Linked DNA regions of Homo sapiens: region 1 is linked to region 2. Evidence: fine-mapped expression QTL. A gene starts in region 2. The other region holds a variant in brackets. All regions are shown on one strand. Distances are between the middles of the regions. Region 1 holds the start of LOC124902852 (a long non-coding RNA gene). Region 2 holds the start of B4GALNT3 (beta-1,4-N-acetyl-galactosaminyltransferase 3).

Region 1 (5,369 bases), 49 kb after region 2:
TTTAAAACTGTTATCTTCCTATATTTTCATTTCCATCTCTTTTTTCTACTTAAAAACATTTTATTTCTATTTTTTAAAATTCAAAGGTATATAATATTAAAAGGTGCTTTCACAGAAGTAAGCACCATAAAAAATTCAATATGCCTTCTAAGTGTTTTCTATGCCTCTGTGATGCCTGTACACATACACATAGAGGCTCCTATACTTACAAGTGCATTTTTATTTATTTTTTATTTTATTTATTTTTTTTGAGACAGAGTCTCACTCTGTCACCCAGGCTGGAGTGCAGTGGCGCGGTCTCGGCTCACTGCAAGCTCCGCCTCCCGGGTTCACGCCATTCTCCTGCCTCAGCCTCCCGAGTAGCTGGGACTACAGACACATACCACCACGCCCGGCTAATTTTTTGTATCTTTAGTAGAGACGGGGTTTCACCGTGTTAGCCAGGATGGTCTCGATCTCCTGACCTCGTGATCCGCCCGCCTCGGCCTCCCGAAGTGCTGGGATTACAGGCGTGAGCCACCGTGCCCGGCCAAGTGCATTTTTAAATGAATTTTTAATTTTAGAATAGTTTTTCATTTACCCAACATTGCAAAGGTAGTCTGGAGAGCTCTCACTTTGCTCACACCCAGTTTCCTCTATTATTGGCATCTTGCATTAAGCCCCGGTACATTTGTCATGATTAATGAACCAATATCGGATGTTATTATTAACTCAAGTTCATACTGTATCCTGAATTCCTTTCAGATATCCCTTTTCTGTTCCTAGACCTCTGTAGTCATTGGGTCTCCCTAAGTTCCTACTGGCCATGACAGATTTAAGCGTTTTTTTGATAGTGTCACTTTTGTGATATATATGGCAACCTTTTTTCACATAACTATATGTTTTGAACACCTTTCTGGGTTAGTGTGTGTGGCCTTCCACACCCTTTTAACTCACCACAGTGTTCTGTTGAGTGGCTTTACCCCATCATTTTACACTGCCCTTGGCACAGAGCCCCCGTCTGGAAGTGTCACTGGGCCTGGGTGCTGTCTGGTGGATTAGACAGACGCTTCCACTGTCTTGGAATTTGGACACTGTGGGAACAGAGAACATGGATGTAAATGACCTGACAGAGCTCAGAGAAAAGGAGCCACGTGGCCTGGGGCACTGCTGTTGTGGCGACCCTTCACCCCACGCCCTCCACCCTACATCCCTCACCCCACACCCTACGCCCTGCGAGTGGCTCTGTGTTTACATACAAGAGTTTACATCTGTGGTGGAAGCACTTTCTCACAAAAGGGTAGGGCTTATTCTAGGAGGCCCTACCAAAGAAAAGCACTAGGTAGCAGCATTCCAGCTGTAGGGCCCGTGACTGTGGCATGCGGAACATTCCTGCCCCTGGAAATCCAGTAGTAGCTTGGTGGACGTCTGTCCCTGGAAATCCAGTAGTAGCTTGGTGGACACCTGCCCCTGGAAATCCAGTAGTACCTTGGTGGACACCTGCCCCTGGAAATCCAGTAGTAGCTTGGTGGACACCTGCCCCTGGAAATCCAGTAGTAGCTTGGTGGACACCTGCCCCTGGAAATCCAGTAGTAGCTTGGTGGACACCTGTCAGGAGTGCTTGAGTAGAGCGTTGATACTAACCTGTGAAAGAAATTTCTCATGATCATCCATTGTAACTGGAAGAGATCTGAAAAATGACTCGGCCCAAGGTCCCACAGCCAGTGGAGACAGAATGTCTTCTCTTACTGTCTTTTCCGCTGGCCCTGCCAGCCCAGACCTGTCCCTAGGGGGACATCCAATTCATATTCGTTAATGAAGAGAAAGCTTCCAGATCCTTCAAGGTGTCTCTGTTACCTCAGAAGGTCCAGTGCATATTTTGAAACAACTTACTTTTGTTTTTTTTAGACAGGGTCTTGCTCCATCACCCAGGCCACCCAAGCTGGAGTTCAGTGATGCAATCATGGCTTACTGCAGCTTCGAACTCCCAGGCTTGAGCAATCTTCCCACCTCAGGCTCTTGAGTGCCTGGGACTACAGGTGTGTGCCACCATGCCTGGCTAATTTTTAAAAATTTGTTATAGAGATAGGGTCTTACTACATTGCCCAGGCTGGTCTCAAACTCATGGTCTCAAGCAATAAAACAGCTTTTTAATGTTTAAATTATACCCGAGGTTTGGTTCTCTGCAGATGTCCCCCAGAATTGGGCACAGCCTCCGATCGGCCTTATTCCTCTCACTTAATATTTGTCACTATTCCAAACCCCATGTTCAACACTTCACCCATTACCTTTTCCCTCTGACCTCTGATTTGCACAGGCCCTTCCAGCAGAGCTCCAGGCTGTTCTTGCCCAAGCAGAGATTACAAACATACTACTTTGAGGACTGACCCTCCCAGACTTACCACTTCAGCCGAAGTAAGGGAGAACTAGACAACTCTCTTTGTCTCATGCTACAAAGTGCCCCAGGAGGCCTTTCATACACAATTATTTTTCAGTAAGGAGCCAGGGAACCAGGGTCTTTTCCTCTCATGCACCTTGTGAGGTTGGCAGGACAGCGTGTGACTCATGCCTGGACAGAGGCGCATACCTTTAACAGCCTTGCTGGGGAGGTGCCCCACTTAGGAGTGGTGGAGATACACTCTACTGGTTTTTCCTACCCAGCAGGTGTCTAAGACAGACACACTCAGACAACACTGCTTTCCCCATCACTGCCTGTCATCCAACACTTCAAAGATGATGGACAACGTGTCTGAAGCTGATGGGGCGGAGGACCCCTGCACACCTGCACCTACTAACCTACTGCTGTACCTTCGCCCCACCCCCAGCCCCCTTTGAGAGCTCAGATCCCGCCTAGGAGGGGATGGATGGGCTTGTTAACAGCTGACAAGTGCTCTGCAAAATGCAGCTGTTTAATCATAAATGAACATTAGAAGGTGGCCTGGAGCCACTGTGCTTTAGGAAACTCATGCGCGTGGAGAGGACAGGAGGAAAGGAGATTTCCAGGGCAGGAGAAACTTGGGAAGCAACACTGAATGGGAAGAGAGGGAGGCTTTCTAGGGGATTTAAATGATACTGAAACCCGGATACGGAATAGGAGAAAAAATACCAACTTGCTCTCAGGGTGTCTTTACTCTCCCCAGTGCAGATTTCATTGACCTAAATCAGGTCTCTGCTCCTATTTGCTGGTACCTAGTTCAAGAGAGTCTTATAAATACACAAAGCCGGAAATGCCTGGGTAGG[G/C]GGGTGGCAAGAGCATGCGGTTCCACTCCAGGACAGGATCTGACTCAAATCACACTTCCCTCCTGGATTCCAGACTGTCAGGAGGGATGCCTCCGAGGTGGTGTTTGGAAGGAGGTGCTGAGAGCGGAGCTGGGTTATTCTAAGCGTGGCCCAGGGAAGATCTTGCCAGACTTGTTAATGTGTGACCCCACCCAGTGCCATGCTCAGCAAGGCAGAGAAGTGTGCTGTGGGTGGTGGGAGCAAGAAAGAGAGGAGGCCAGGACATCTCTATTCCACACATACCCTGTTTCATCCCTTGCTGCATTTCACTAAAATTATCCACTCGCCCCTACGAGACCTGCTGTGTCCTCCTTGAGTCCTTGTTTGGCATACCTTTGTTCCCTTCCATGGCCGAGTGAGTTCAGTCCACATTCATTGAACTGAAAGCTCACAGGTCTTGGAGCCTGGAGAAATAATCGGAACCATTCCCTTTCGTCTCCAGGCAAGATGAGCGATGGACCCAGGTTGCCTAACCTAGTTAGCTGCATGACACTCCAGAGCATCCAGCTCAAAGCAGGCATTGACAGGGATGGGGCACCCAGAGAAATGGCGCTGGTGCTGCTGTAGGGGTAAGATGTAGCAGCAAGGGGCGGGCAAGAGGGCTCCAGATGATTTCTGCCATGCTGAGCTAGCTGCCTGCTGGCTTTGTAAGCAGTGGAATAAGAAGACTATTGTGTCAACTCTTTGAGGGGGTGTGGCCTTCCTTGGGGTGAGAAAGCACAATGGGAAGGGCTAGCAGCTCCCCCGATCCTCTTCCTACTGTGACCTGAGAGACACTCCATGGGGGGGTTGGACGCTGGGGGGCTGGTCAGGGGAGTTGGCTGGGCTGGGAGGGAAACGGGCCCTTTCAAGAGCAAGTCAGACTCTGGTGAGCTGTTTACCCGCCTCATGCCCAAGGGTGCAATGTGAGTCATTTAATTTAATTGGTTTAATAAGTAAACGGTCTGGGTACAAAGAGGAGGGGGTTGGGTATGAGAGGGAGGGGCGGGGCAAACCCTGCAGAGCTGCTTTGGAAAGAAACCTGTTGCCAGCCCTCTAGGGATGGTCACAATTAAACAGGGAGTGGAGATGCTTTGGGAAGTAGGGAGAAGGGAGAGCCCCAGATGTTGAAGTGGAAAGAGGAGTAGAGGCTATAAGTCGGCCAGCCTCAGATTCTCAGTGCCCATCTGAGTATTCGATTCACTGGTGCTGGTATATCCACAGGGCTGTGCAACCATTGCCACTACCTAATTCCAGAGCATTTTCCTCACCCTAGAAAGGAACCTCACCCATTATCAGTCACTCCCAATTCTCCCCACCTCCAGCACTGGAACCACGACTCTCCTTTTGGTCTCTATGGATTTGCCTATTCTTTTTTTTTTTTTTTTTTTTTTTTTTTTTTTTTTTTTTTTTTGAGACAGGGTCTTACTCTGGTGCCCAGGCTGGAGTGCAGTGGCAGCTCACTGCAATTTCTGCCTGCCAAGCTCAAGGTATTCTCCCACCTCTGCCTCCTGAGCAGCTGAACTACAGGCGTGTGCCACCACGCTCGGCTAATTTTTGTTTTTTGTTTTTTTTGGTACCTTCCACCATCCACCTTCCACCTTCCGCCTTCTGCCTTCCGCCTTCCACCTTCGACCTTCTTCCACCTTCGACCTTCCACCTTCCACCTTCCGCCTTCTGCCTTCCACCTTCCACCTTCCTTCCACCTTCCACCTTCCACCTTCAACCTTCCGCCTTCCGCCTTCCACCTTCTGTCTTCCACCTTCCTTCCACCTTCCACCTTCCACCTTCTTCCACCTTCCACCTTCCACCTTCTTCCACCTTCCACCTTCTTCCACCTTCTTCCACCTTCCACCTTCCACCTTCCACCTTCTTCCACCTTCCACCTTCCACCTTCTACCTTCCTTCCACCTTCCACCTTCCGCCTTCGACCTTCTTCCACCTTCCACCTTCCGCCTTCCACCTTCGACCTTCTTCCACCTTCGACCTTCCACCTTCCACCTTCTTCCACCTTCGAGCTTCCACCTTCCGCCTTCCGCCTTCCACCTTCTGTCTTCCACCTTCCTTCCACCTTCCGCCTTCCACCTTCCTTCCACCTTCCACCTTCCACCTTCTTCCACCTTCCACCTTCC
Region 2 (5,369 bases):
TATGATTTGACCTGCTCTGCCTCTGATATTCTGGCCAAGCAAAGACCGGGCCCTTCTACCATTATTGCAGGTGTATGGTGGAAAATATTTTTCCTTTTGGGTGCAATTTGTACAATGTGACCCTGGGCTATTCTGGGTCAGGTGCTGTAGCTGAAGTGGGAGGGTGAAAGGACAGTGAAAACCATCAGAAGAACTGGTGAGTAGCCAGGCAAATTGACACTGACAATGAATGGACATTTGTGACAATATATTATGCCACCATGATACCTCAATCCACATACTTAGTTCTGGAGCTCAGCTATTTGGGAAATTTGGGTCTCAAAATTCAGATCTTCCCCTGCTGTGACATCACCAGGAGTCAAAAAGGGATGTGGAGAAAGCGGGGTCTGAATGTGAGGGATATCTCAGTGCCAAGGCGTCACCCACAGAAGAGAAGGGAACAGAAGAGGGAGAGAGGAGAGCCACAAGAATGTCCTGGCCTCTTTTCTCTTCGACTCCTGGCACCTCTCACCATAAGCTGGAAAAGTAATGATCTTCTCAAGTTATAAAAACAAAGTAGAAATAAGAGGAGGATAAAAAATCAAGAGGTACAGGGTGATCTCCTTCTTCTTCTTAATCTCTTTGGACCATAAATTTGGCCTTTAAACTGTCAGATTTCTTTTCCTGTGGACTATCTTTTTTCCTCAACTAAACAGCATGCTTCTTGTTTTAGATCTCTCCCAGTTCCTACATAATAGATGCTTCAAGCATTTGGTTGACCGAAGTGATTGCATGAGCTTTCTCAGTCTTGAGGAGAGAATTGTGGCAAGGCTGCCACCTGTTTCCATGACAAAGTGTTAAAAGTGACTCAACCTAAAATCCAGTTGGGTTGCCCTTAGTAAGAGAGGGACTCTATTTACAGGGCCCGGTCACTTCCCACTTGACTCAGCCGAGCTTGCACAGGCCGTGCACACACTGGCTGCTCCTATCTTGGACTTGTGGAAAGAAAGAAGAACATGAGAAGTACAGGAATCTGTGGCTTTGGAACTTCACAGAGACCTTTCCCAGGGGCTACAATTAGAGAATTGTCCTTTGGATTCACCCTTTTTGCTAAAGAACTGCAGTGAAAGTTCTGGAAGATGTTTGCTCAAAGTGCTACCCCCATCCTCAAACCTTCCTAAGTGCTAAGTGGACATTGTACCACCCACTGGAAATGCAGCTCCCATTTTTGAAGCCTTACAGTGAGGTTGGGAAAACAAGACTCACACACTCCAAGTAAGTTCCAACATATCAGATGGTGAGACAGATGGCAAGTTCTACTAAAGCTCCAGAAAGGAAGGAGTTGCTTAGGACTTGGCTGGTCCAAGAAAGCTTTATAGAATCTGAAATGGACCTTGGATAAAGGGTACAAGTTGACCAACTAGAAAAGAAAATGTGTTGGAGGGTAGTGAATAAACTCGTTTTAGCTGGAGCAGGTTTCATGTGGTCACATAAAGTTGGAAAAGGTTCTGGAAGGCCCTGAATTCTGGATTTACAGTGTGTATCTTAATCAATAAGCATTGGAAGCCATTAAATATTTTTGAGCAGGTGTGTGACTACATACGGGATTTTTTTTTTTTTTTTTTTTTTTTTGAGACAAGGTCTTGCTCTGTCACCCAGGCTGGAGTGCAGTGGCATGATTGTGGCTCACTACAACCTTACACTCCTCCCACCTCAGCCTCCCGAGTAAGTTAGGACTACAGGTGTGTGTCACCATGCCTGGCTTTTTATGAAGACCATCTGGTGGTAGTGGACAGGATGCGATGGGAAGCTTGGAGTTGGGGAGGCTAATTAGGAAAAGTCCTGTAGAAACTATTGAATATCCAACTGAGGTGAGAACAGAGAGAAGGGAAACATAGTTCTCAATTCTGTGAGAACCTCTGTCTTGGAACAGTACTTGTGTGATATTCATTTGATTTTAAAATGTCCAGGAACACTTTGATCCTTCACTTTTCCCATAGTCTCCTGACCATTTTTCCCAGAAGAGATAATGGAAAAGAAAACTGCAGTATAACTTGCTGAGTGACCTGGGGCAGTTATTCTGCCCCTTGATACTTTATCTAATTTAAATCAGATAATAATGCTTTACCTGCCTGAAGGCAGAGGACTGGAATACTGATTTTTTTTTTTTTGAGACAGGGTCTTGCTGTGTTGCCCAGGCTGGAGTGCACTGACGCAATCACGGCTCACTGCAGCCTTGACCTCCAGAGATCAAGAGATCCTCTTGCCTCAGCCTCTCAAAGTGCTGGGACGACAGCCGTGAGCCACTGTGCCTGGCTTATCTTGCTGATCTTTTCAACTCTAAGAGTGAATACTTTTCTTTTCTTTTTAAAATTCTTTTTCGGAACCCTCAAACACCTACTCTCTTCAAACAGCCATTCCAGCCCAGTCTGGGGAAAACTGCTTGCTGGGGTTCACCGTGGGGGCTGTACGACTTCCCCAGCGCCTCTCGGAGATGTGGTTCAGGCTGGGAAGAAAGGTCTTCAAATCTCAACTGGAAAACGAAGCTATGTCTGCGTTAAGCGTCCAGTGGCTCCCGTGATATTTCACGCCTACTGGTTTCGTCAAGCAGGGAGTCGGGTCGTTGCTGTTGGCGACGAAAGGCTCTGAGGCTAAAGCCTTGGGCGTCGCCCAAACCAGCCTCTACTTCGCTTCTGCCTAAAACCACACCGTTAGGCGCCTGGGTGGTGACTCGGTTTCCCTCGGTCACCCAGAGTCCGCATCATCACTCGCCCCCTCCTCATCCCACCCGTTCCCAGTCGGGGGAGGCACCAGGCACCAGTTCTCTGGCCCCACCTCTCGCTCCCCTAGGGAAGCCGAATGGCCTCTTCGCGTCCCTGGCTTCTCGGGGGCGGAGCCCACCTGTGCCCGGGGCGGGGGCGGGGGCGGGGCCGGGGGCGGGCCAGGTTCCGCGAGCAGGAGAGCCCAGAGCCCGGAGCCCGGTCCGGGGCTGGCGGGGGCGCGGGCGGAGGCAGGCGGGCGGGCGCCGGGGAAGCCTCCTTCTGGGCAGCGAGTGAGGGCGGGCGCGCAGGGAGGGAGGGCGGCAGCGAGCCTGCGACGGGAGAGGCGTGGGGAGGAGAGCCCGGCGCGGAACACACGCGCGGAGGAGGAGCCGGGCTCGGCTCCCGGAGAGACCTGCTGGGCGCCCGCGCAGCCCGGAGACCCCTCGCGCCCGGAGCATGAGCCCGAGCCCCGCCGGAGAGCGGCCGGGAGAGACGGCCTCGGCGCAGCCCTGAGACGCTGGGCCGGGACGCGGGGCGCCCTGGGCGCGGGGCCCGGCCGGGGGGCGGCGGCTCGGGGGGTTGGAGCCCGCGCTGGCGGCGGCCGCCTCGGCGCAGCGCCATGGGGAGCCCCCGGGCCGCGCGGCCCCCGCTGCTCCTGCGCCCGGTGAAGCTGCTGCGGAGGCGCTTCCGGCTGCTGCTGGCGCTCGCCGTGGTGTCTGTGGGGCTCTGGACTCTGTATCTGGAACTGGTGGCGTCGGCCCAGGTCGGCGGGAACCCCCTGAACCGGAGTAAGTAGCACCCAGGGGAGGCGAAGGGCGCGGGGGTGGGCGGCGGCGGCGGCTCCTGCGTTGGGGGGACCCGCCTCTCATCCCATCCTCAGACCCGATTTCCCACCCATTTCTCCCTCAGGTGCCCGGCGTCGCCCCGCGCGTACTCGGGGAGAGCTGCGGGCGGGGGAAGCCGCGGGGCCGAGCGCAGAATTCCCGAGCCCGGGCCTGCCCGCCGGCCACGTGGGTCCGGGGCACCCTGGGGGCTCCTCGCGTCTCCCCTCGGAGAGCGACCCGGAGAGAGGCTCCCCGCCCGTCCCGCCGAGACGCTGGCGGAGACCGGGCCCCTCCAGCCGCTCCGGGCTTGCGGTTCCCGGGGAGGAGGTCCGTGGGGTCCACGCGCGAGCTAGGGATTCGGGTGCGGGATGCCCTCGGCCGTCCACACCCAGGCGCGCGCTCCAGTCCGCGCAGCCCAAACTTTGCCCACCGCCTTCTGTTTGGCTCACTCCGTTTCCTCTCCTGCTGCATCTTCTAGGGGGGTTCTTTTTTACCATACCTCGGAGAGTCCCGTCTCTTCCCCGCTTCCCATACGTCGCTCCTCTCCCAGCCTCCGTCCTCGGCTCTTTGAATCTCCCACCTCCTCGCTGCGCCCTCTTTCTCCTGTTCGGGCCGCCCCTTCTGCCACTTTTCTGAACCCTGAGCAAATCTACCAAACTCCCCAGTTTAAGGAGATGATGGACAGCACAGTGGACCGGGCAGCAGGTAGATTCCTACTTCTGTTTTTAACTTAGCCAAAGCCACTTAATATTTCCGTGCCTCAGTTTCCTCCTAGGAAAACAGGAGAGCGTGGTCTCTTTGCCTTTTTACATCAATAGGTATGGCTGTGCGAGGTGGTTTTCAACGTACTGTGGATGGGCCTAACAAAGTAAAACTGACAGTGACAGGGGCCGTAAAAGATCCTGTAATAGTTGGGAAAAGAAATGGAGAAACTCCCGTTACTACCAGGTGCCCAACGCAAGCCCGGGGAGCCGAGGTTCAAAGTTCTGGCACGTGGCCTCCCATGCCTTCACTTTCCTCCCGCTTTGGGGAAACTCGGACAGAGTGGCTGAGCAAGCAGCTGAGAAGATACTCTGACTCTGACCTGTCGTCGTGTCAGCTTCTCTACCCAGAGTTGGGTGTGGTGCTGTGCCTTCTCTTGTGGCCAAAGAGAGAGAATTACTAGGGACAGTCGCTGAGCTGGTTCAGGTTGGAAATGTATATTTATGGCCTAACCTTTCTGTGGTGATGGAAATCATTCCGGCTGTGAGTTAGAGGAGACTGGCTCTGCCACTAACTAGCGGGGGAATCAAGGGAAAAACGACAGCTTCTCAGGTGAAAATGAGGCCTTTGGTCCAAATGATCTCCAAGGTGTCTTTCAGTCTGGATACGAAGACTGATCTGCACGCAAGCGTTTCCAGGGCCAGAGAGCTCAGCACATCACCAGGAAGCCATAGCTTCCACCCCGGGGCCACGACTCCAAGCAGCAGAGCCCCTTCCTCTGATGACCAAAATCTGCCGCCCATAGTGAATTCTTCCCTCCTCTGGGCCTTGTTCTTCCTTCTGAAAGACAGAGAGTGAATCTATTCTCCCCCGCCATGGCCACTCAGGCCCAAATGGATGAGCTCCTTTGGAGTGTGTGTGGGTGGGGGCCTGGGAGGCGACACCTCCTCCCAGTGTAGCCATCATTTTGTTTAGCCAGTGGGATCTTGTGCACAAATTAAAAACAGAGAGAAAGGCAGTTGCTTTGTGACCTTGGAATCAGTAACCTCCCTTTCTCCCTCTCCTCACTTTTCTTTTACCTCCGGTGTGTTTTCTCCCCAAA

The links. PIP is the estimated chance that this variant, and not a neighbour inherited with it, causes the effect.
Region 1: its variant is fine-mapped to the expression of B4GALNT3 in lung (GTEx, PIP 0.93).

What each region holds. Positions count from the first base shown.
Region 1 is chr12:506,405-511,773 of GRCh38, forward strand. All of the region lies in intron 1 of B4GALNT3 (beta-1,4-N-acetyl-galactosaminyltransferase 3), which reads left to right. It overlaps LOC124902852 (a long non-coding RNA gene), which reads right to left and starts at 1,766. Exons shown (of 3, transcript XR_007063150.1): 1 at 1,588-1,766; 2 at 1,444-1,551; 3 at 1,321-1,371. RefSeq lists enhancers at 2,961-3,534, 4,378-5,024. The variant G/C (reference allele first, on the strand shown) is at 3,220.
Region 2 is chr12:457,017-462,385 of GRCh38, forward strand. It overlaps B4GALNT3 (beta-1,4-N-acetyl-galactosaminyltransferase 3), which reads left to right and starts at 2,923. Exons shown (of 20, transcript NM_173593.4): 1 at 2,923-3,529. The coding sequence starts at 3,361. RefSeq lists an enhancer at 2,091-3,074.